2 separate regions of the Homo sapiens genome follow, and region 2 is linked to region 1. Evidence: fine-mapped expression QTL. A gene starts in region 1. The other region holds a variant in brackets. All regions are shown on one strand. Distances are from middle to middle. Region 1 holds the start of COMP (cartilage oligomeric matrix protein). Region 2 has its middle 6.4 kb from the start of CCDC124.

What was found.
Region 2: its variant is fine-mapped to the expression of COMP in lymphoblastoid cells (GTEx, PIP 0.95).

Annotation. Positions count from the first base shown.
Region 1 is chr19:18,789,960-18,792,858 of GRCh38, forward strand. It overlaps COMP (cartilage oligomeric matrix protein), which reads right to left and starts at 1,346. Exons shown (of 19, transcript NM_000095.3): 1 at 1,232-1,346; 2 at 891-976; 3 at 603-654; 4 at 1-155. The coding sequence starts at 1,310. RefSeq lists enhancers at 1-505, 506-1,086, 1,087-1,665.
Region 2 is chr19:17,925,206-17,928,111 of GRCh38, forward strand. No RefSeq gene overlaps it. Among named protein-coding and RNA genes, the nearest start is that of CCDC124, 6.4 kb to the right of the region's middle. The variant G/T (reference allele first, on the strand shown) is at 1,192.

The sequences.
Region 1 (2,899 bases):
GTGCGAGCCGTTGCCCGTGAAGCCCGCGGGGCAGGGGCCGCAGCGCGCGCCGCTCTCCGTCTGGATGCAGGCCACGCCGGGGAAGCAGAAGCCGGGCGCGCAGTGGAGCAGGGGCCGCACGCTGGGTAGGCCGGTGCGTACTGACTGCTGCATCCCTGCGGGGGGGAGGGGGGAGAAGCGGCGGGGCTGATCGGTGGCTCGCCCGGGGGCAGAGCCTATCATGGCCACGCCCCGGGGCTGGAGGCTTCCCCTTCCCCCCCACCCCCCGCCCCGGGGCGGCCCGAAATCCTGCGCTGTCCGCGATCCCGCCCCAGAGGCTGCGCGCTCTGACCGCGGGGTCTCCCCGGTCTCTTCTCTGAGTCTCTGTCCCGCTTTTCTGCCCCGTGGCGTCTCTCACTTCCCCAAAACTCTCTCACCGCTTCTGTCTCTTTTTGTCTCTGTTTCTACACACCCCATCCCATTCCCGTTCGTCCGTCCACCTCTCCGTCAGCCTCCATCTCCTTCCGTCTCTTTTCCTCCCCAGCTTTCCCTGGCTCTCTGTCTCTGTCTCTGTGTCTCTGTCTCCCGTCTCTTCTCTCTCCCGACCGCCCCGCCGCGCTCACCGCACGCGTCACACTCCATCACCGTGTTTTTCAGGAACGTGATCTCCCTGACCTGCAGGGGTGGGATGGAATCAGCGGGGTCCCAACCTCTCCTCATCCCTCGGGTCTCCCCTCTCTCTACCCCGGGGTCCCTTTCTACAGCCTCTTTTCGCCAAGGACTCCCTACCCGCCGACCCCCTTCCCTCCCCATCTCCTCTCCACCTTCTCGGGTACTTCCTCTCTCCTCGCTGGGAACTGAGACCCCCTTCCGTTCCCTGGCACTCCCTGCCCCGCACCCGGGCCCCGCACCTGCTGCCGCAGCAGCTCCCGCACGTCCTGCAGCGCCGCGTTGGTTTCCTGCAGTTCCCGAAGCATCTGCGGGCCCAGGTCTGAGCCTGCGGCGGCAGGGGACCTGGTGAGGCGTCATGGGGCCGGGGAATCCCACCACCAACTCCCACCGTTGCAGCGAACCCGGACCTCCGAGGCCCCACTGCGCTCCTCTAGTCTCGGTCCCGCCACCTGCTTTCTGCGCCCGGCACGTCCCCTACGAACAGTCCGTGAGCCCCAAACAGCCTGGATCCCGGGCCTCTCACGGGTCCTACAGTCCGTTGTGGGGCCGTGGGCACGGCGCGGGTGCTAACGCGGCTTACCCAACGGGCTCTGGCCCTGTCCGGACGCGCCGAGGGCAGCCAGGGTGAGCAGAAGAACGCAGGCGGTGTCGGGGACCATGGCGGTGGCGGGGAGCTGGGTGGCTGCTCGCTTTCTACCGCCCACGAGGCCCGCGGGGCCTATTTATCCCCAAGGCACGGCCGGCCCCAGGGACGGCCCACCACAGCCCTGCCCAACGTCCAGCCTCAAGGTAAACAGATGGCGCTGGCCCCTGCGTTCAAGTCCCCGCCCGGAATGCCCCGCGAAGTCGCCCGCGGCTGAATCCGACATGGTGGGGAAACTGAGTCCCGGGGTCTGTGGAGAGAGCTGGTGGGGCAGGGAGTCAGGGGGTACTGCCCCCACTTTCATTCACTGTGTGTGTGCGTCTGTGTGTGTGTGTGTGTGTGTGTGTGACGGGGTGTGGCTGTATCGCATCCTCTTGCTTCAGTCTCCCATGTAGCTGGGACTACAAGCCCGCACCACCAAGTCCAGCTAATTTATTTTTATTTTTATTTTTATTTTTAGAGACCGGGTCTGGCTATGTCCTGCAGGCTAGTAGTCTCAAACTCCCGGCCTCAAGCGATACTCCCCACATAACTGGGATTACAGGATCCAGCCATAGCATTCAGCTCATTGATTGATTGATTGATTGAGTGCTTGCTGTATGCCAAACCTGAGTTCCAGTTCCAAACAAGGCAGGCTCCATGGCCACGCTCTCAGCTCACACTTCGGGAAACAGAGTCACCAGCGTCTGAAAAAATAGGTCCACCCACTATGGATCAGACTGACTGGCCCTCCACTCCTCCTGAAGTGCTTCAAAACTGGGTAAGTTGCTGGGTGCGGTGGCTCACACCTGTAATCCCAGCACTTTGGGAAGCCAAGGCGGGCAGATCACCTGAGGTCAGGAGTTTGAGACCAGCCTGGCTAACATGGTGAAACCCCATCTCTACTAAAAGTACAAAAATTACCCAGGCGTAATTCCTCCCTTGCACAATGGAGGTAATAAGTTAATAATTATTAATTAATGATTAATAGTAATGATGATTATGATGATGAATGGAAAATAGGGGAGGGGCAGTTGAGACCTGGGACTCTCAATTTTCCTGCCTCTGTCCAAGGAGGCCGCTTCTGGCCCCAACGCTGGAGGGCTGCAAATGACTCCCCCCAACCCAACTCATTGCTGGTGTTCCCTCCCCTCCCCATGGTCCCTCGGCTGGTGGAGGAGGGGACAGCGTTCAGGATCTTGCCCCAACCCCTGTCCAAGGGGACAGGCCCACTTGGTTTTCCAATCTGCGCAATGGGGTGTGAGGCCCCCATCTGGAGGGGAGCAAGTTAAAGGGCTCTAGCAAGGGGAGGTCCGGGGCTTCTGTTTGTCCAGGCTGTGCCATACCTTCCAAACTGTGCTCCAGCTGCTGTGGGAACAGCCTGTAATAAAAATAAAAGTTACCGCTAACTGGCCAGCCACACTCTGGAGTTACAAAACCCCTTAACCTCCTGCAATCAGTTAACACTCTCCACTCCCACCTTCCAGTACTCACAGCGTCTATTCTATAGACAGAGAAACTGAGGCCCAGAGAGAAAAAGTGACTGGCCTAAGGCCACTGCCCGAGGGCAGGGGTGAATCTAGACTCAGAGCCAGATATGTTTTCTGGGGAGCCTACAGAGAAGTC
Region 2 (2,906 bases), 860 kb before region 1:
AGATGGGGTTTCACCAGGTTACCAGGCTGGTCTCAAACCCCTGACCTCAGGTGATCCACCCGCCTCGGCCTCCCAAAGTGCTGGGATTACAGGCGTGAGCCACCATGCCCGGCCTACCCTGGACATTTTTATAAATGGAATCAGACACTCTATGGGCTTTTGTGCCTGGCTTCTTTCACTCAGCCTCGTGTTTTCAGGGTTCATCCGTGCTGTGGGATGGATCAGTGCTTCATTCCTTTTTATGGCTGCATAGTATTCCATTTCGTGGATTGACCACAGTCTGTTGATCCATGCATCCTTTAAGGGAACAGCTGAATTGTTTCCACCTTTTGGCGATAGTGAACAATACTGCTATAAACGTGTGTGTCTTTTAGTCCTTTTTGAATAGTTAACTGGAGTGGATACTCCTTTTCTCTTTTTTTTTTTTGAGATGGGGTCTCACTCTGTCACCCAGGCTGGAGTGCAGTGGTGTGATCTCAGCTCACTGCAACTTCCACCTCCCAGGTTCAAGCAGTTCTCCTGCCTCAGACTCCCGAGTAGCTGGGACTGCAGGTATGCACCACCACACCTGGCTGAGTTTTGTATTTTTAGTAGAGACAGAGTTTCACTATATTGGTCAGGCTGGTCTCGAACTCTTGACCTCAGGTGATATACCTGCTTCGGCCTCCCAAAGTGCCAGGATTATAGGCGTGGGCCACCATGCCCAGCCATAAAGTGGACACTCCTATTCTGGACATAGAATGACAATGATTTTTCTGCACATAGAATGACAATGATTTTTCCACACATAGAATAACAGTGATTTTCCTTTTCTTTCTCTCTCTTTTTTTTAAATTGGAGACAGGGTCTCACTTTTGTCACCTAGGCTGGAGTGGTGTGACTGTATCTCACTGCAGTCACTCCTTTGGCCAGGGGATGGGGAGGTTTGGCCATGTCTGTGGTTTGGACAATGCTCTTATTTTCATCTGTGGTAAGACTCAATTACGGAAGGGTTTTGATTTTTGTCTGGTTTCATCCTGGACAGAGTGGCCCTGTTTGATGTGGTCATTCTGTGAAATCGTATATGTTCAACCAAAGAACTCCTCGGCTTCACTGTGACTACCAGGTCAACTCCCAGTTGACCAGAGCCTGGGGCCAATTTTTTCTTCTTTACTTTACATTCACCTTCTCGCCTTTGCATATGCTGTTCCT[G/T]CTGCTCAGAATGCCTTTCCCTCCCTGTCTTCACTCAGCTCTTTCCTTCTCAATTTTCAGAGTGCTCTTAAATGCCACCTCCTCTGAGAAGCCCTCTGTGATCACCCAGGCTGTGGGCCTCTATAACCCATTTCAGCACCAGACACATCTTTTGGTCACAGTAAGGATTTTTTTTTTTTTTTTGAGCGAGGGTCTCACTCTGTTGCTCAAGCTGGAGTGCATGCAGGCAGTGCAATGGTGGCTCACTGCAGTCTCCAACTCCTGGGCTCAAGTAATCCTCTTGAGTAGCTGGGAAGACGAGCTTGCCACCACGCCAGCTGATTTTTTTTTTATTTTTGTAGAGACAGGGGTCTCTCTATCTTGTCCAGGCAGGTCTCAAAACTCCTGGCCTCAAGTGATCTTCCCACTTTGGTCTCCCAAAGTGCTAGGATTACAGGCGTGAGCCACTGTGGCTGGCCTGTCATCTTTCAAGTTTCCCAAGTGAGGAGAAAAGGGATGGAGAAGGCCAAAAAAAAAAATAAGTTAGAAGAACAGTTCTTCCTATAGGTCTCAATATGTTGCCATGTTCCTATTGAAAGAAAGAAAGAGAAAGAGAGAAAGAAAAGGAAGGAAGGAGAGAGAGAGAGATCAGAAAGAAAAGAAAGGGAAAGGAAGGAAAGATGGAAGACAGGAAGGAAAGAGAAAGAAAGAAAAGAAAGAAAAGAAAAGAAAAGAAAAAGGGAAAGGAAGGAAGAAAAAAGAAAGAAAAAGAACGGAGATAAAGGGGGCTCTAGACAAACATAAAAATTGGATCTTCAAAAGATAATTAATTGGCCAGGTGCGGTGGCTCACGCCTGTAATCCCAGCACTTTGGGAGGCCAAGGCGGGCGGAGCACCTGAGGTCAGAAGTTCGAGACTAGCCTGGCCAACATGGCAAAAACCCGTCTCTACTAAAAATACAAAAATTAGTCAGGCATGGTGGCTCACACCTGTAGTCCCAGCACTTTGGGAGGCCAAGGTGGGAGGATCTCTTGAGCCCAGCAGTTCGAGACCAGCCTGGGCAACAGAGGGAGACCCTATCACAATTTTTTAAAAAACATTTCAAGTAGCCAGGTATGGTGGTACACACCTGTAGTCCCAGCTACTCGGGAGGCTGAGGCAGGAGGATCGTTTGAGCCTGGGAGGTCGAGGCTGCAGTGAGCTATGACTGCACTACTGCACTCCAGCCTGAGCAACAGAGTGAGACCCTGTCTCAAATAAATAAATAAATAAATAAATAACACAACAGATGATCGCCTCATGAGAATTTTGTCTTTCCGTTGTAAGTCTCCTCTCCAGTGGAAAAGTCTCACAGTGGCCACTCAAATTCTAAATTGTCCCCAGTGTGAGGTACCATTGGAGAGAGACATGTTTGGTTTTGGTTTTGTTTTTTTGAGACAGGATCTGGCTCTGTCACCTAGGTTGGAGTGCCGTATTGTGATCATGGTTCACTGCAACCTCTGCCTCCCGGGCTCAAGCGATTCTCCTGCCTCAGCCTCCCGAGTAGCTGGGACTACAGAAGCACAACACTGCGCACAGCTTCCTTCTAAGATTTTGAAATGGTGAAAAGTTGCCCAAAGGACAGTGGTCCAAGGAGATCTTTGGAATACTTTGGCCATCAACACTGACTCAAGGGTGACTTACTGAGTCTAGGCCCGTCCTCTCTTTATCGACGTTTCCCCCGATGGACCCACAGT